Linked DNA regions of Homo sapiens. The protein of the gene in region 3 purifies or fractionates together with the protein of the main gene of each other region. This does not show direct contact. Each region holds a gene or a part of one and is shown on either strand. Other genes may lie near its edges.

The links.
Region 1: the proteins of PKNOX2 (region 3) and SLC26A6 purify together in Homo sapiens (affinity purification with mass spectrometry; one large-scale study listed by BioGRID and IntAct). This does not show direct contact.
Region 2: the proteins of PKNOX2 (region 3) and PBX3 purify together in Homo sapiens (affinity purification with mass spectrometry; one large-scale study listed by BioGRID and IntAct). This does not show direct contact.
Region 4: the proteins of PKNOX2 (region 3) and GRIPAP1 purify together in Homo sapiens (affinity purification with mass spectrometry; one large-scale study listed by BioGRID and IntAct). This does not show direct contact.
Region 5: the proteins of PKNOX2 (region 3) and ALDH7A1 purify together in Homo sapiens (affinity purification with mass spectrometry; one large-scale study listed by BioGRID and IntAct). This does not show direct contact.

The regions. Positions count from the first base shown.
Region 1 is NC_000003.12:48,628,856-48,632,497, forward strand, and holds part of SLC26A6 (solute carrier family 26 member 6), read right to left. Parts: intron 3,542-3,642; coding exon 3,390-3,541; intron 3,238-3,389; coding exon of another isoform or gene 3,190-3,237; coding exon 3,025-3,189; intron 2,947-3,024; coding exon 2,794-2,946; intron 2,452-2,793; coding exon 2,369-2,451; intron 2,286-2,368; coding exon 2,138-2,285; intron 1,866-2,137; coding exon 1,752-1,865; intron 1,661-1,751; coding exon 1,583-1,660; intron 1,303-1,582; coding exon 1,207-1,302; intron 1,124-1,206; coding exon 1,017-1,123; intron 857-1,016; coding exon 787-856; intron 1-786. UniProt on the Homo sapiens protein: Apical membrane anion-exchanger with wide epithelial distribution that plays a role as a component of the pH buffering system for maintaining acid-base homeostasis.
Region 2 is NC_000009.12:125,911,365-125,915,072, forward strand, and holds part of PBX3 (pre-B-cell leukemia transcription factor 3), read left to right. Parts: intron 1-3,708. UniProt on the Homo sapiens protein: Transcriptional activator that binds the sequence 5'-ATCAATCAA-3'.
Region 3 is NC_000011.10:125,395,249-125,398,956, reverse strand, and holds part of PKNOX2 (homeobox protein PKNOX2), read right to left. Parts: intron 2,983-3,708; exon of another isoform or gene 2,861-2,982; intron 1,084-2,860; coding exon 895-1,083; intron 1-894.
Region 4 is NC_000023.11:48,995,718-48,999,425, forward strand, and holds part of GRIPAP1 (GRIP1-associated protein 1), read right to left. Parts: intron 3,583-3,708; coding exon 3,521-3,582; intron 2,464-3,520; coding exon 2,437-2,463; intron 1,641-2,436; coding exon 1,533-1,640; intron 1-1,532. UniProt on the Homo sapiens protein: Regulates the endosomal recycling back to the neuronal plasma membrane, possibly by connecting early and late recycling endosomal domains and promoting segregation of recycling endosomes from early endosomal membranes.
Region 5 is NC_000005.10:126,585,167-126,588,874, reverse strand, and holds part of ALDH7A1 (alpha-aminoadipic semialdehyde dehydrogenase isoform 1 precursor), read left to right. Parts: intron 1-3,708.

The DNA.
Region 1 (3,642 bases), on a different chromosome or scaffold from region 3:
AGGGGCTTAGGCCACAAGCCCGACGGTGTCATCCCCATCCCCCCACAGTGCCTCTCCCTCCCCACCTCTCCTGCCACCACCCAGGCAGGCTTCACAGGCTCTTAACCTTTCTCTTGGGTTTCCAACCCCTGCCTTGTGTTCTGTTTTCTGCACCCAGACAGAGGTCCTCCTAGGCTGTCATATCAATCAGACCTTCCCCGCTCCCACCCCATTCGGGTCACAGCCCGGGTCTCTGCTGGGCTCCAGGCATGCATGGTAAGGGCTGGGCTGCCCCCTCATCCTCTCCCATGTCTCAGACCCCTTAATTCCTCCCCGCACTGCCTAATTGCACTGTGCCCATGTTGCAGGCAACAGCCTTGTTTTATTCCAGAGCCCCCCACCTATGTTCCTAGCACTTGGCCCAAGACCTCTCAGGAGATAAATGGATGACTGAGGACTTAGTAACCCCACTGATCAGATCAGGAAATGCCTCCCTTCCAACCTGGCGCCCCAGGGAGCTGCCATTCCGGCTCTCTGACCCACGGCTGCTCTGCAGGTGGAGCTTGTGCTGTTGACTCCACGACAGACCCCTCCCCAGCCCCAGACCCATCTCTGTCCACTCTCCCTCTGTCCCTTCATACCTCTAGAGGGGGTCATAGACCTAAACTCCTCCCTTGAAATCCCAAAGACCAAAGCCAAAGTATCCTCAGCCCCCAGTTCCCTGGCCAAGTGTGGAACGAATCCACAAAGGCTCATTCTTCCTCCGTCTCCCCATCCACACCATCTCACTCAGCCCCTGACACTCACCTCTGAGTACTCTGCCACATCTCTGTAAATATCCGTGTCTGGCACCTGCCCCAGGACAGAGTAGTGGGGCCTGTGAAGGAGAGAGAGAATGCACGAAGAGGGGGCAGAAAAAGGGGATAACAGAGGGGTCCGAAGGAGCCTGAAGTCCCCAGAGATGTGGGGAAAGCTGCGGGGAGCCCTGTGGTACTCTCTCACTAGCTGGAATGAGGGGACCAACATGGCGGACTCACATCTGTGTCCGGACCACCACGAGCAGCAGGGAGAAGATGACCGCAACCACCAAGCCAAGGTCCAGGTTCAGCAAGATGGTGGCCGTGAAGGTCACCAGCCAGATAAGCTGAGAACAGAGGGCAGCGGTTGGAGGGCGGCGAGGAGCCATGGGGCTGCCCAGTCCCTGCCCTGGGCTCCCAGTGCACTCACCAGATCCGCCCGATTGGCCTTCCAGAGGGAGCGCATGTCGCTGAGCTGCCTCAGCATGCCCTTCAGGTTCACAATGATGATGGCTGCCAGGACCGCCTGGGGTGGGGACAGTGCCACCAGGGGCCATTGAGGGCACCCGATGCTGACAACCCTCCTCACCGAGGCAAAGCCAGACTAAGCCCAAGCACTCAGGCAGTACCCCAGACACAAACCCCCACCCAGCCCCTGACCCTTGTCTCCAAATCTCACCTTGAAGATCTCAGCCTTGAAAAACAGAACCTAACCTTGTGTCCCCACCCCTCGCCTGAACCTAGACTGGCTGATTTGAGAGCCCTGGCCTGGCCAAGACCTGAAACCTGGCTGGGTGGGGGCTCACCTTGGGCAGGTCATGGAAGAGTTCCCCAAGTTTGACAATGATGAGGAGGATGAAAAGGGAAGAGATGGCTCCAGCAACCTGTTCGGGGAGGGAGTGAGCAGGGGAGAGACCTCCTTCCCCAGGCAAAGCAATGTGCATGCCCACACCCATGCCCACACCCAAAGCCCACCTGCGAGTTGCCCCCGGTGCTCTCCTGTACCAGGCTCCGAGACATAGAGCAACTCACGGGGAAGCACTGGAAGATGCCTCCGATAAGGTTACTGAGGCCCAGGGCCACCAGCTCCTGACGGGGGACAGTACGGGTGTGAGAAGACTTCCTAGAAGTGGCTGGTCACTGTTCCACTGTATCTAGGCCTGTGCATCCCCAATCTCCATCCCCACCAAGTGGCCCCCAGAGACTGGATGCTGTCCCACACGTCCTGCTCTCCCACCCTCAGTCCCCCACGTGGCCTCAGCACATCTGCTGTCTCCCTGTGTCCCACCGGTTCCTCCCCCACCCGTTGCTGGCGCCTCCATACACTTGGATGCCTCCTACACATCCCGCATCACCCAGACCTGGTTGCTGTCCACCCGGTAGCCGTGCCTCAGGGCGAAGATCTTCCCCAGTGAGATGGCAATGGCAAACCCAACCACAGCGATGGTGAAGGCGCTGCCCACGAGCTTTGAGAACAGCTGGGTGTTGGGGGCCACTGGGGGCACCAGCCTGTGAGAGGTATCTGTGAGGCCAAAGCAAGGTCCTGTCCTGGCTGCCCAACCCTCCCTGACCTGATGGAGGCCAGAGCTCACCCTGCAGGGATGTTGCCCACGACATCTACCTCAAATCTGTGCTTTAGACCCATGCCATAGGAGATGCCTGTGGCCCCGATGAGCTGTGGGAGAGGACAGAGTCAGGGAGGCAGGTGCTGGCACCATGGTCAGGGGGACACATAAACCACTGTGAGGTGAGGAGGGAGATACTGGGCAAAACCTTCTTCGAGGGTGGGAAAAAGTCACGTAGGGTGAGAGACAGGCAACACCATTTCGGCTATGGGGAGATGCTGTCAGGGGCAGGAAGAAACCAACATAGGGGCTTTCTGCTGTGCCCCCCACAATACCCAAGAACCCTCCCAGCCCCCCTCCAGCTGGCCCTCAAATACAGGAGGCTGCCCACGTGGCAAGGACCCAGCCTGACCTGCCCTTCTCCCCTGCCCTCCACTCCCTGGCCCTCGAACCGTGAGCAGCTCCCCGGGTATCGGCATGGGCAGCTGCTGCTGCAGCTTGTCATTCAACAGCTTCACCACCACGAGCACCACCCCAGCCACAGCTGCAGTGACCACGGTGCCAACCTTGCTCTGGGGCAGCTTCCAGCAGACCTCCAGCACTGTCTGAGGAGAGGCCAGGTCACAGCTAGCACTCAAGGCCATGGGGCACACCTACCCCTCCCTCCCCCTACCCTCACTCACATAGATGAGGGACAGTGGCCCAGAGTGGCTGCTCAGATGGAGGCCAAACACATACTTGAGCTGTGAGACGAAGACCTGCACAGCTGCAGCTGTGGTATAGCCTCGGACAAGAGGTTCTGACAGGTAGGTGACCACGAAGCCGAAGTGGATCAGGCCCAGCCCCACCTGTGGGGCGGCCAGGGGCAGTCAGGAGAGGCAGGGGTCCTGGGGTTGCTAATGAGGAGCGCAGGGCAAGTGGGATGGGAGGGGGATGAGTAGACGGCAAGAGGAGGACGACGATGGTCAGACACTCAGGGGAGTACAGACAGGACAGTGGCGGGAGCAGAAGTGGTGGTGGGGGGCACATACTCCTGACTGTTCCACACCTGGAAGAGGCCAACCAGGACACTGAGTGTGGAGGCCACCTGTACCCGGGCAGCATCTCTGGCTGTCTCATTGATCATGGAGTCGTTCAAGGCCTGCGGGGCCAGGGATTCTGTCACACTGCCCACCATCACAGACATGACAGCAAAGGTCCCTGTAAGGACGGCACGGGGCAGGTCTGAAGAGGAGAGGACACTGCCCTGCCCTGGAGCCCTGGTCTTAAGAGAGAGGCCAGGAGACTTCCAGTTCTGGATA
Region 2 (3,708 bases), on a different chromosome or scaffold from region 3:
CTGTGGCTGACTTGATTTTTAAATGAAGAAAGCACAGAAAATAAAGTAGGTATTTTTACTAATTAGCTTTGTGACTTCTGACCACTATCCTGCATGTTACTTTAAAATAACAGACACAAAAGAAAAGCTATGAAAAATTATAAGAATAACAGAAAACATTAATATTAAAATTGTCGCTTATTTCAAAGCAGTCAAGAATTCAGGGCCTGCTGAAAATATCTCATCTGGCCTTGTTTTACATGGCACTCTGCTAAAACATTTTTCTCTGAGCTAAGACTGTGGTGTGGTAGTTGAATGAATCAAAAAACAAGTCCATCAGAAAACAAAATTACAGCGACGTCGTAGGCCTAAGCTTATGAATAATTTGGGGCCTAAATTTATGGTATGCTCATTAGGAGAAAAAAAAATCAAACAACTCAAGTTTCCATAATAGCTTTTTGTTTCTCAGCAGGTCTGAATAATGTACTCTTTACTAAGTAAAAGTGATGTGATGACAACTTTTATCATTATTATGGATATTATCTATCTTCCCTGATTATGGAAATATTGTAGGGCTAGATCTTAGTTACGTCTAATTCAGGACCACGTGTAGAACATATTTGAAATAGCTATGGTCTGAAGCCATACTCTTCAGTGCTGGATGAACAGAGGTTAGTCATGGTCCAGTGGGCTTGGTCCTTGAAATGAGGGAGCCACAAAGCTTAGTTAGTGCACTGTGTTGTTTGCACCTCATTCACTCAGGTCAAGCCTTCATTGTGTTACAGTGTTCTTCTGTTAGAAAGGCTCCTACTGTACAATCTAGCCAATGCAGATTTCTAATCTGCTTATTTATAATTCAAAAGCTTGCCTATATATTAATGAACCCTTAATGAGCTGTTGAAAATGCCTGAATTACAGTCAGATTATTAAACTCAAACAGCCCCGTAATCATACCATTTGAGTGGGCTTTAGGTACTTTTCACATCTGCAGCTTAGAATTGTGAAGGGTATGCGTTTATTCGGAGAAAGCTTTGTAATAATTTTGACCCGTAATTTATTTATTGCCCTCCAAATGCAGTCGTCTATGCAGATGCTCTCTCCCATTATCTGTGGGGCAGGTGCACAGCATGTTGAAAGACAGCTAATTAGGATTTGCTGAAAGATATGCAAAAACTGTAGGCTTATAACAAAGCCAAGTTCATTGTTAAACAATGTTTTACTGTGTTTGTATGATTTGTCTAAATCTTAGGGATACGGAAATGAATGTTGTGATTATAAGTAGATTGCAAATAGGGTTTATTTTTTAAACTTTATAATGTTGTGATGACCAAAGAACCTAGATGTAAACCTTTATAAACCTCTGTATGTTTCATTATACATACATTTTGGATTAAAAACAAGTACAATCAAATTTTAAATGATTGTTTTACCATGTTTCAATTTGAAGATATCAAGATATTTTGATAACCACACAGTCTGATTCATTCTGGCCCTTGCAAATTTAGACCCATTAAAATGTTTATAGGTGCCCAGAGGAGTAGGTATTATGACTAAAAGCCAGTGTAACTCTAGAAAGTTAGTAAACTAAGTAATAGTGAGTGGCTAGGTAGGTAGGATGAGGAATAAAATGGTAACTAAATGTTTTTAAGTAAGAAAATAAATAGAAATATTCAAATTGAAAGTAATTTTGGAAACCAGGTATTAGTATTTAAAGATCCCATAATCATTACTTTGCTTAATAAAGAAAAGAAACCGATTCACTTTTCAGACTAGTTATGAAAATTCCTTTATTATTGATAGTCTTCTTCTTGTTGCCTATTTGCAAAGTACTTTAGTACTTTTCATCTAAAGAACTATGAGTTTTCCGTCAGGAAATGATTTTTCTGATGAAATTTGATGCACATAATTTATAAAGTAAATACAAAGGATTGCATTAAAACATATTTTCCTGTTCTTGAGGCAAGCACTTAGTGTTGATTTACTGATAATTTTAGAAATAAGATATTTTTTCATTATAAGAGTAAAACGTTATAGTAATTGATACTGTATACTTATAATTGTTTTTATTTGTGTCCACGGCTTTTGAGCTTATGGATTGCTTCTTATTGGTACAATAATGATGGTTTATATACGTATTTATATACATATGTATAAAAGTATCATAGATGGCTAATTAGTTTTGTGCCTTTTGCATTTGTTCCTAATGAATTTCCTTCTGTCTCTCTTATGGTGTACTTCCTTGTATGTTTGTCATTGAGCTTCTTCTCTTGTTTGCCGTACATGTGCAGGGAAGTGTAATCATTTTGGGTATGGAAGTTAATCTGCTATTAAAGTACTTCACCACATGTCCATAGGGAAAAGATTAATGTGTTTAACTACAAGGGGAAAACTAGAAACCCGGAGGAAACTTGAAGGTAGATTAAAAAAACACATTTCAGGAGAGGCACCAGTGTCTATGTAAATACAAAAATCAACAAACACACAAAACTGTGGGCAAAAATTCAGTTGAAAATGGAGAAACTTGAGAAGTCCTCAAACAAGAATAAAAAATTAAACAATTCAAAGTGCAGCATAAGAGATTGCTCAGTAAGCTCTCATTGCATGCCAAATGCACAAAAAACTTGCTATGTGAACTACAAGCATGTACAGGTCGTGAGATTTTTAACATTTAACACAGTGAATTAAAAGAGAGGAAAATTAAAGATTTAAATTAAAAATGCAAACTTAACCAATACATGGCAGTTCTAGAACAATATTAGGCAGTCCCTTTTAGTTATAGAAGAAACAGCAAATACGTTTGCCTATTTTTAATTATCAGCAGTGTGTTGGTACGCATTTTATGAGTTATCTTTTTGCTCTCCTAAATGAATATATTGTCTTAGTATATTATAGTTTTCAAACCTTATTTGCCTCTGAATAGACAACAGATAAAATTTTAAATTATGGTGAGTTAGTTTTATTATCCAGTTGAAATTATTCTGAAGTATAATTTTAAATGAAAGTGACAGCTTTAAAGTGTTTTGGGGAAGAAATTAAAGTTTTGCATTTGTGTTAAGGCAACCAAGAGCTCTGTCATGCCATGGATGTAATTCAGGGCATCTAGGAATGAAATCTGTTCTTAAAAGAATTGACGGTAGCTTTAGGTTAGCATATAAAATCAGAGTTGGTGATCAGTTGAGTACTTGGCAGCTTATAGATGTTATGTCATGTAAGTTACACTAGACACAAAGTGTGTACCACTGTGGATAAACAACAACAGGCACAGACTCAAAAGAGAATCCAAATACAAACAAGCAAGGTGCCAACTTCCTTTTCCCCTCTTCCCCAAGAAGCCTTGTAACTAGTGTAGGGAACCTGCTTTGAAGCAGATTTACAGAGGTTAATTGGGCTGGGATGTTTTAGATTATGTTACACATTAATGAAAATGCTGATTTTGAGCTGTCATGACTCCAATGCTTTTTATACCATGATAATTATTTTAAAACTTTGTCTTCTGTGTTGTTGAAAACATTTTGGCAGAAAGCCTGTGTGACCTGATTAAACCTATGAATTGTCAGCTATGATCTATAGTACTCAGAAGAGGTTGCTGACTGGGCATCACTTAGGAAGTTCTTGATTTAAAAGCAAAATTAGATTGAGACTACTGTGCCCAGCACTGTATTGCCATGTCAATGGCACATTTTTAATACTGTATTTAGTATCCTCGTTTTATAGTTTGCTGGCAATTGC
Region 3 (3,708 bases):
AGCACCTCTCGGCACTCACTCCTAGAAAGTTTACCTGCATCCCCATGCCTGATTGTTTAATGAGAAGAGGCTACAGAGGACTCCTTGGGGACCCTCCAGGTGTCTTCCAGGACTCAGGAGCTCAGTGGAAGGGGAACAAAGTCTCAAGCCTGTGGCTTATGCAGATGTCTGTGAGTTGGGCGGGAAGGTATTGCCAGGCAGCTTTCTCGGTTTGTAGGTTTGGGGAAAATATCCTGCCCTGGAGGGGAAACCCCATCTTGCCCAAAGCGTGTAGTCAGCATTTCTGCATTTCCCAGGTCTCAGGAAGGAGGTGGCAGGGGAACCTGGGAACAGGGTGGTTTGAGGTGACCTTGACCATGGCCCTGAACCTTAGGGGGACAGAGATGCCAGAGTAGCGTGAGTGCCTGGAGAATGATTAGGGAGCAGCAGGCCCATGGGAAGCTGGCTTCACCCATTAGGTGGGCAGGATTCAGGGAATGACTGCTTTCCCCAAATGCCCTTTCCCAGAAATGCAGATGGCTCAGCAAGCCGCAGCCTCTTAAGAAGCCTGTCCCAGCTCATCCTCCAGGAGAGCTTTCCTTCTCCTTAGCTCTGGTGCTCATTCTGGGGGATACCTTGGGCCAGGAAGCCAGGAATGATTTTGGACATTGTCCCTCTCCGATCTGGTCATTTTCAAGGGAATACTAATGCCCTGGCAGGGCAGACTGTGTGTAAAAAAGGGATGGGATGGCCTAATGGATATGAAGAAGAGTGCATCAGAGGAGGGCCCTCATGGCAAAGGAACCCAGTGGGTCTAACCCAGTGAAGGTCACCAGGGGACCTTCCTCCACGCGTGGCTCCAGAGCTGGGCTTAGGAGCCTGGCTTAAGAGATGGGACCCAGCTCTGGGTGTTACCTGTGAGTGAAGGTTGATGGAGGGCTGGTTGGGGGAGTAGGGCCCCCCTAGATCATTCCTGAGCAGGTTGTCGCTGTGCATCTTGGTTTTGAGGCAGGTGATGTAACGGTTACAAAAGTCCTTGCAGAGTTCATTGACTTTCTCCAGCTCCAGCAGGTGGATTCTCAGGACCTGGATTGCCTTCACCATCTGTGGAGAGGGAGGAGAGGTGAGCCCAGGTGTTTGCATCCCATTTCCCTCACTGCCTGGACCCCCAGCCCCCACCACCCCAGGGGAGGGGAGCCCACCCCCTGCCGTAGCTCATGCTTCCTACACTTGATCTTGGCCAAAAGGCCCAGAAGTGGTAGGCGGTGCCTTCTCATCCCCATGACTTCAGTTCTAATGATGGCTCTCTGCTAATTATTCCTTTGCTCTGAGCCCTCTGTTATCACAGCTGTTCTTGAGGCAGTTGTGGTATTCTGAGAACAGCATTGGCCTTAGCGATGGGAGGCCAGGTCCAAGCCCCCGGCCTGTCATTTACTATCTGTGTGAGCTTGGGCAAGTTGCTCAAGCTCTCTGTGCCTTAGTGGCTAACAAATGGGGATAATTAGATTCTCCCTGACAACTTTACAGGTTTGTTGTGAGTATTGTATGAGGGCGTATACATGGTAGCACATTGTGAGGTGTGAAGGACCAGGCAAGCCTGAGGAAGATGGAGATCAGAATTTCTTATAAGTGCCTCTAGAGCTCAGGGACTGTCTATTCTTAAACAAGCATTCTGAGTGCCTCATGGGATACCGGTTACCTTGTGGACGCTCTGTGGATACTTGCTGATGGACTGAATAATCCAGCATGACTTAGCTGGGCACCAGCTACCTCACTGTCTGCTGTGGCCTTTTCCATGCCCTTTGGATTGCTGTACGGGAGCCTGCTGCCTCTTCAAATGGACATTCCTAACCTTTTCGTGGCAAGAAGCTATTTTGCAATTGAAGCTTTGCTCTTTACTGCTGTTATTATCATAAAAAGAAAATACTATGGAAGGTATGGAAAGCAGGGTGAAAAAAACCTGTCTTCGATCCAATCGCCTTAAAGAATGATTTTTTCCTACACCCATATATTTTAACATAGTTTCAATAACCTTGTGCATGCAATTTTGTTTTCTGTTTTTTCCCTCTAGTTTAGCAAATCTATTTTTCTAAGTGCCAGAATTGTTTTCTCTATCCTCTCTTCTAGACTATGAGCTTTGAGAAGGCAGGGATGATGTCTAATTTGCTCACCATGTTATCTTCAGCACGAACACATATGGATATGGAGTAAACATTTGCTGAATGGGTGAAAGTTATTGAGTAAACATATTTTTAAATGTTGCATATTATTTCATGTGTGTGCCATACTTAACCAGTCTCCTATTGTTAGGTATTTAGATTACTTCCAATTTTTCAATTTTATAAAAAATGTTACAGTGAATATTTTCTAAGCTTATAGCTTTTTTTTTTTTTTTTTAAAAGTTTCTGCATTATTCTTTAGGATGAATTCCCAGAAGTGACAGGAAAAAAAGCTATGAACGTTCTTGTGGATTATGATAAATATTGCCAAATTGCTTTTCAACAGGGGGTTGTTCAAATGGTGCTAGAATAATTAGACATCCACATGCAAAAAAACTGAATCTTGATTTAAACCTCATACCTTAGATGAGATTAACTCAAAATGGATCAAAGACATAAATGTAAGACAGAAAACTATAAACCTCTTAAAAAAAAACAGGAAAAAATCTTCAGGATCTAGGGTGAGGCAAAGAGATCTTAGAGTTGACACCAAAAGCATGATCCAGGCTGGGCACAGTGGCTCACGCCTGTAATCCCAGCACTTTGGGACATCGAGGCAGGAGGATCACTTGAGGTCAGGAGTTTGAGACCAGCCTGGCCAACATGGTGAAACCCCATATCTACTAAAATTACAAAAATTAGCCAGTGGTGGTTGTGCATGCCTGAAGTCCCAGCTACTTGGGAGGCTGAGGCAGGAGAATCGCTTGAACCCAGGAGGTGGACGTTACAGTGAGCCGAGATGGAGCCACTGCACTCCAGCTTGGGCGACAGAGCGCAACTCCATCTAAAAAAAAAAAAAAAAAAAGATGATCCAGTGAGGAACTGGACGCTGTCAAAATTAAAAATGTTTACTCTTCAAAAGACCCTGTGAAGAAGAGGAAAAGACTACATACTGGAGGAGAATATTTGCAAACCAAGTACCTGACAAAGGACTTGTATCTAGGATATATAAAGAACTCTCAAAACAAAACAGTAAAATAACAAGCAACCCAATTAGAACATGGTCATAAGACATGATTAGACATTTCACTGAAGAGGATATACAGATGGCAAATAAGCACAAGAGAAGATATTCAATGTCATTAGTCACTAGGGAAATGCAAATTAAAACCACAATGAGATATCACTACACACCTATTGGTATGGTTAAAATAAAAGAAATAAATATGACAACACCAAATGCTGGTGAGGAACTGGAGACTAGAACACTCAGACATTGCTGTTAAGAGTGTAAAATGGTACAGCCACTCTGGAAAACAGTATGACAATTTCTTACAAAACTAAATATGTGCGTACCATATGACCCAGCAATTGTACTCTTGGGCATTTATCCCAGAGAAATAAAAACATATGTTCTTACAAAAACCTGTATACAAATTGTTCAAAGCAGCTTTACTTCTAATAGTCAAAAATCGGAAACAACCCAAATGTACTTCAATGGGTGAATGGATAAAGAAACTGTAATTCATCCATATCATGGAATATAACTCAGCAATAAAAAAGAATGAGC
Region 4 (3,708 bases), on a different chromosome or scaffold from region 3:
CCCGAGTAGCTGGGACTACAGGCACGTGCCACCACACCCGGCTAATTTTTTGTATTTTTAGTAGAGACGGGGTTTTACCACGTTAGCCAGGATGGTCTCCATCTCCTGACCTCATGATCTGCCTGCCTTGGCCTCCCAAAGTGCTGGGATTACAGGCCTGAGCCACCACGCCCGGCCATAAAACTTTTAAAAAGTCAAATATTTTAGAGGGAAGATGAGTTAATAGAAGGATAATATTATAACTAATGCTTCCATAGCTGATACTATGTGCAAGGCTCTGTTTTAAGTGATTTACGTACATTTATTCATTTAATCCTCACAAAAGCCCTGTGAAGAGGCAGGTACTGTTATTATCATGACTTCCATTTTAAACATTTGGGAACCAAGAACCAGGCAAGTTAAGTAACTTCCTCAAGGTTACAGTTAGTAAAAGGTAGAGCCAAGATTTTAATCTAGGCCTTCTGGTTCCAGAGTCCCTGCTGGTACCTACTACTTGCTCAACTGCCTCTCCTGGTATTGTACCTGCTTAAAGGTTATTTTCGGTTTTGTTTTTTTAAGGTCATAGGCACTATATTCTCAGATGGAGCCTTAGAAATACCATTTTTGGGCCGGGCGCGGTGGCTCACGCCTTTAATCCCAACACTTTGGGAGGCCAAGACGGGTGGATCACCTGAAGTCGGGAGTTCAGGACCAGCCTGACCAACATGGTCATTTTCTCTACTAAATGTCCTCTCCCACCCATGTCATTTTCTCTCATCTCTACTAAAAATACAAAGTTAGCCAGGCATGGTGGCATATGCCTGTACTTCCAGCTACTTGGGAGGCTGAGGCAGGAGAATCGCTTGAACCCAGGAGGCAGAGGTTGCAGTGAGCTGAGATCATGCCATTGCACTCCAGCCTGGACAATGAGAGTGAAACTCCATCTCAAAAAAATTTGCTGCCATGAGACTTTTTTCCTTAAAACACACTAAAAACATAGACAATTATCAACTGTGGATACAGAAGATAGATGAGGGAACAAAAGACAATGTCTCCAACTGCCCAGTAGATTTAGAAACAGACAGGACACTAAAATCAATGGGGAGATAGAATTAGTAGCTCCAGGATGAATTATCTGGAAGAGGTAGAACCCCAGGCTCATGTCAGATGAAGAGAAGAAAGAGAAAAGGGAAGAAGCTCGAACACTTTTCCATCCTATATTAAGCATAAGAACTCTGCCTAAAACCCCCCAACACCTTGGAGCACCACAGCATCAACCCCACATTATACACATGGAGACTTGAAGCTCAAATAAAAGGAGTGACTTGGCCAGGAACCAGGTGACCTCAGGGCTCAAAGCCTTCTAATCCCAGCAGAGTGAGCGGCCCCATCTGTCAAATTACTGCCCCCCAGCAGCAATCCAGGACCTGTTTCAGCACCACGGACAGTGCTCCAGGGCCAGACCCTGTCCAATCACTCTCTGCCGCTGTTAGGTTTCAGCCCAGATGACCCCTACCCCTCATTTCCCCTTTGACTATCCCAGGCACCAGCACCTTGCTGAACTCGGCCATTAGTGTGCTGTTCTGCAAACGGAAGTCCTCCTCCTGGCTGTGCAGCTTTGCCTGCAGCATCTCATTTTCACTCAGCAATACCTCGACTTCCTGCAGTGGCAGACAAGGGCCAGGACTCCAGCAAGGGCAAAAAGGATAGGGAGGTAGGGCAAAGAAACAGAGAGAGGGAGAAAATGACATGGGTGGGAGAGGACATAGGGTACAGAGAATGAGGTGATATAGGAGAAAGAGACATGGGGAGGGATAAAATGAGAGACAGGGAAAGGAAGATAAAGACATGGGAAGGTAGAGAGAAGGGAATACAGGGAGGAAGAGAGCGGAGGAAAAGACAGGAAGATAATGATTGGGGAGAGAGGAAGTAGAGATGGGGAAAGGGGGAGAGATAGAAAAGGGGAGAGGGATTGGGAGGGAGAGAGTGAAAAAGACGGAGAGAAGAACAAACAGAAATCAACAGGGAGAGAACAGAACAGGGAGAAGAGGAGGGGTCAGGAAAAGAAATGAGTTAGGAAGAGAGAGGAATGGGGTGGAAGAAACAAGGAGTTAGAGAGAGAAAGCAGAAAAAAGAGAAATCACCGAGACAGGAACAGGAGGGGGAGAGACAAAGAGAAGATTGGGAAGAGAAATGAGTCAGAGAGACAGGAACAGGAAAACAGACAGAGACAGAAAGAGACTCAGAGAAAAGAATGGAAAGAGAGAGAAGGAAAGAGACACAGAGTTAGGACAAATACAGGGAAACAAGGACAGATACAGCAACACATGGCAGTGAGGTAGTAGCAGATGTAAAGGCACACAAAGAAAGAAAGGCCAGTACAAGGAAATATCAGCATACAGAAATAGCCCACCAAGACATCTCCCAGTCACACTCACCCACAAGGGATCCCCTTACCTGAGCTTTCTTGCTCTTGCTCAGTGCCTAAAGTGGGGGTGGGTGGGAAGAGAGCTAAAGTGAACAGAGATGGACTGCCTTACTAGGATATGGAGACAATTGTGCCAAGCGTTTTGGGAGGACAAGGATGACAGGGGTTGCAGGATGGGAGCATCTTCAACCACAGAACATGTGTGACAATTTGGAGCCCAAAGGAATGATGGAATGAGTGTGTGAGTGAGTGAATGAATGCAAGTCTTGCCCTGGGGCCCCAGCACACATAAATCATCCTTTCTTGGAAGCTCTTGAGGCTGGTGGGGGGACAGGGGAGGTAGGGAGATGCCCTGGTATTTAACCATTTATGGGCTGGATCTCCAGACTCAGAAACTGTGGCTTCATTGCTACATCTGTCCATACATGTCTCTGTGGGTCCCTCCCACGCAGTGTGGAAACTGTCGCTCCCCTACTGGGCAGCCAAGAGCATTGCCAGCTTAGGGGAATCAGCATCCTACCAAAGAGAAGTGCAGCTTCCTGACTGTCGGATTTTCTGCATACTGTATTCGTTCATCCAACAAATATTTATTGAGCACATATTATGTATTAACATTGTGCTAGGTATGGCTAGATATGGGGACAGAGCAGTGACAAAGGAGCACCTCGAATGTCTTGAGGGGCCACAATAGGTTATATCCTATCTCATCTTTAGAGGATCTGAGAGGTGGGTTTGCTCTCATTTTCCCAACTGGACCAGGACAGAGATGGGAAGTAGGAGCACAAGGCAGGAGTGTGAGTAGAGGATGGGAGGCAGATTCGAGGTAGATTTACTGATAGATTTGAATATTTAATTAAAAGTCAGTGAATGAGAATGAGTAACTGAAATTAGAAATGAATTAAAAGTAAATTAAAATTAATCACTAAATTAAGCAGGATTAGGTAAAATTAGCAACTAAAGAGAATTCCATTGAGAATCCTTTAAATGACTACGTGAAAACAGCATGCAACATTAGGTCTGGTTCACTGTAGGTGCTCACTGGAGGGATGAATGAGTCAGATAGGTAGAAGCAAGGGTGGATGGGTAGGTGGATGGGTGGGTGGAGGGAGGTACCTTCTGAGCTTTGCTGAACTCCTTATCCAAGTAGGCGACCTTCTGTCGAAGACTGGTGAGTTCTGGTGTCGGGAAAGCAGGGAAACTCAGCCTCAGCCAGTGGCAAGAAACTGAAAGGCCTTCCTGCCAGGCCTCTGAGGGAAAACCTCGGACACCATTCCCCAAAGCCACCCCCATCTAATAAGGCC
Region 5 (3,708 bases), on a different chromosome or scaffold from region 3:
GATGAGGTTTTGCTCTGTTGCCTAGGCTGGTCTCAGACTCCTGGGCTCACGCAATTTACCCACCTCAACCTCCCAAAGTGCTGGGATTACAGGCATGAGCCACCATGCCTGTAATAGGCCATTTCCCCTGTTATTAACATTTTGCATTAGTATGTCATATTTTGTTACAACTGATGAGCCAATGTTCATGTGTTATTATAAACTAAAGTACACAATTTACATGAGGGTTCACTCTTTGCATATCCTGTTTTGAATGCTAGTGCAACTTAACATGTTGTCTTTTGACTAGAAACGTCTATTGTATGTGTCTATTTATCTAGGGTAAATACAAACATTTGAAAAAAAAAGAATTTATGTGAATTCAGGGTCTTGTCTTTTCCTGAACTGGTTTTTATTCTGAGACTGAGTCTTGCTCTTGCCTAGGCTGGAGTGCACTGGCATGATCTTGGCTCACTGCAACCTCTGCCTCCTAGACTCAAGTGATTCTCCTGCCTCATCTTCCTGAGTAGCCGGGACTACAGGCATGAGCCACCATGCCCGGCTAATGTTTTTTTTTTGTATTTTTTAGTAGAGAACAGGGTTTCACCATGTTGGCCAGGTTGGTCTTGAACTCCTGACCTCAAGTGATCTGCCCACCTCTGCCTCCCAAAGTACAGGCATGAGCCACCACACCTGGAATGAACTGGTTTTTAAATCTATCTTTGCCCTAGGGAGTGCCAGCTGACATTATGATCTTTCTTAAATATTGGGCTGTACTTTTTTTGTTGCTATTTTCACATTCAGGATCTCATTTGGCAGTCAACTCTTACCCACCATGCCAGCCTCTGCACCTAACATCCTTTCTCATACTTCTGGTGCTTTTTAGACCTCCCAACAAATAGAATGGGGGTGCTACGTGGGAACAGGTTGCTTTCCTGGGTAATAGTAGAGTCAGCTGGGGATCCTACTTGTTTGATTTTGAGTTAAGCAATTGAGTTCAAGGTTTAGGGAAGAGGCAGAGTTTTTCCTAATTGTGCTCTGGGGCTCCTCCCTGGGGCAGGGACTTAGAGAGGCTCGGTAAGAACAGACCAAAGCTTGACCCCCTTCTCGTCACAGAAGCTTTCCCATCTCGATCCTCCCTCACGTGAGGCTTCTCTGCTTGGCCCTCATCCATTTGGCTGACCTTGACTGTGTTAGGACAAACCACTGTTTCATGTAGTTCATTTGAGTTAATTCTAGAATTTTTCTTTTTCTTTTTTTTTTTGAGACAGAGTTTTGCTCTTGTTGCCCAGGCTGGAGTGCAATGGTGCCATCTCGGCTCACTGCAAGCCCTGCCTCCCCGGTTCAAGCGATTCTCCTACCTCAGCCTACCAAGTAGCTGGGATTACAGGTGCCCGCCACCAATTTTTTAAATATTTTTAGCAGAGATGGGGTTTCACCACGTTGGCCAGGCTGGTTTTGAATTCCTGACCGCAAGCCATCCACCCGCCTTGGCCTCCCAAAGTGCTAGGATTACAGGCATGAGCCACTGTGACTGGCCAATTCTAGAATTTTTCAAAGGGAACATTTTTCTTTAAGGAAAATGGAAACAAAGTGAAACATATGGAAAGGTAGTTTATAGAAATTGATTTCTTTCTAAGGAATAGACTTGCTGCTTTCTTCCATGAGCCAGTTTCAGCACAGAATGTAGCCCATTTCTGCCGTCTGCATCCCCATGTGTCCTCATTTTCCCTCCCATCTCTGGTGAGAAAGAGTAGGAGTCTCTCTGTTCTTGAAGACAGGGAACTGTTTTTTTTTTTCTTTCTTTTTTCTTTTTTTTGAGACAGTCTTACTCTGTCACCCAGGCTGGAGTGCAGTGGTGCGATCTCGGCACACTGCAACCTCTGCCTCCTGGGTTCAAGTGATTCTCCTGCCTCAATCTCCTGAGTAGCTGGGATTACAGGTACCAAGCGTGGCTAATTTTTGTATTTTTAGTAGAGACAGGGTCTCACCATGTTGGCCAAGCTGGTCTTGAACTCCTGATCTCAAATGATCCACCTGCCTCGGCCTCCCAAAGTGCTGGGAATACAGGCGTGGAACCACAGCCCCCGGCCATAATTTTCCAAAACCACTTTCTCTTGCTTTTCAGCCTTTGCATATGCTCTGTACCCCTCTAACCCCATGCTTTTCCTCCACTTTGCCTACCTCTTCACAACACCTGGCATGCTTTAGGTCTTAGCCCTAAACTTCTAAACTTGTAAAAAGCCTACTTCAGGTTGCTCCAGTTGTGAAATCTAGCTCCCCTTTCATGGCATTTGCCACATTAGATTGTAATTGCCTGTTTCTTGCCTTTATCACCCCCATGGACTGTCAGCTCTATAGAGGGCAAGAATTGTAACTGCCTCATTTGCAGTAGAATATCCAGGGATTAGCACAGTATCTGGCACATAGAACATATGCAATAATTATTTGTTGAAAGACTGACTGAATAAAATGTGTCCAGAATGGGAGGTAAAAGGCCATGTATACTGGCCATTCTGAGTTGAAATTAACCAACTTAACTAAGCTTATAAATGTGCTGACTAAATTCAATTGAAACATCATTAAACCCACACCATGTGCTAGGAAATGTATAGGTTATGTGCTGATTGATATAATGCTACAGGTTTTTGTTTCCTGTTTCCAAAAGTGTGCATATGTTGTGAAAATGACAGACATTGCAAACATATAAATTGTGGATGAAAATCTGTTATAATTTCATTCCCCACAAAAAACCATTGTGAACAGCTTGGTATATGTTGCTCCAAATTTAAGCAAAAGTTTACTTACCATAAGTGTTTTCTTGTTTTGTATTATTCTATTATAGCTTTTCAATGTTTTCCCATAAAAATCGACCTTATTTTATCACTGTTCCGTAATTAACCAATCATGTGCTGATGGACAGTTGGTTTCTTTTTTTCTTTACTAGAAACAGCACTGCAATGAATATCATTGTACCTATACTTTTGCATACTTATGTATATAAGCTCAGTTTCTGTAAGCAGAGCTGCTTAGTTAAAGGGTAGGAATGTCATGCCTGTAATCCCAGCACTTTGGGAGGCCGAGGCAGGCGGATTACCTGGGATCAGGAGTTCGAGACCAGCCTGACCAACATGGTGAAACCCCATCTCTGCTAAAAATACAGAAAATTAGCCGGGCGTGGTGGCAGGCGCCTGTAATGCCAGCTACTTGGGAGGCTGAGGCAGGAGAATCACTTGAACCCAGGAGGCAGAGGTTGCACTGAGCCGAGATCGCGCCACTGCACTCAAGCCTGGGCGTGACAGAGCGAGACCCCGTCTCAAAAAATAAATAGATAAAACAAAGGGTAGGAATGTTTTAAATGTTAATAGATTGCAAAGTGACCATCCAGAGAAGCTGTACTAAGAGACAGTGATACACTTGGGGAGAAGAGAGAGCAAGGAAGAACCTTGAGCTCACAGCCAAGCTCTGTGAGGCAAGTGTGAGCAGTGCTGTGATTAGGAGCAGTGGGAGTTAGGGGGAGGGTGTGATTGGCTTCTGCCTGGGGGAAGGTTTCATGGAGGGGAATGTTCCTTTTACCTGTACTTTATTATTTTTTTTGAGACAGAATTTCACTCTTGTCATCCAGGCCGGAGTGCAATGGCGGGATCTCAGCTCCCTGCAACCTCCCCCTCCGGGGTTCAAGTGATTCTCCTGCTTCAGCCTCCCAAGTAGCTGGGATTACAGGCACCT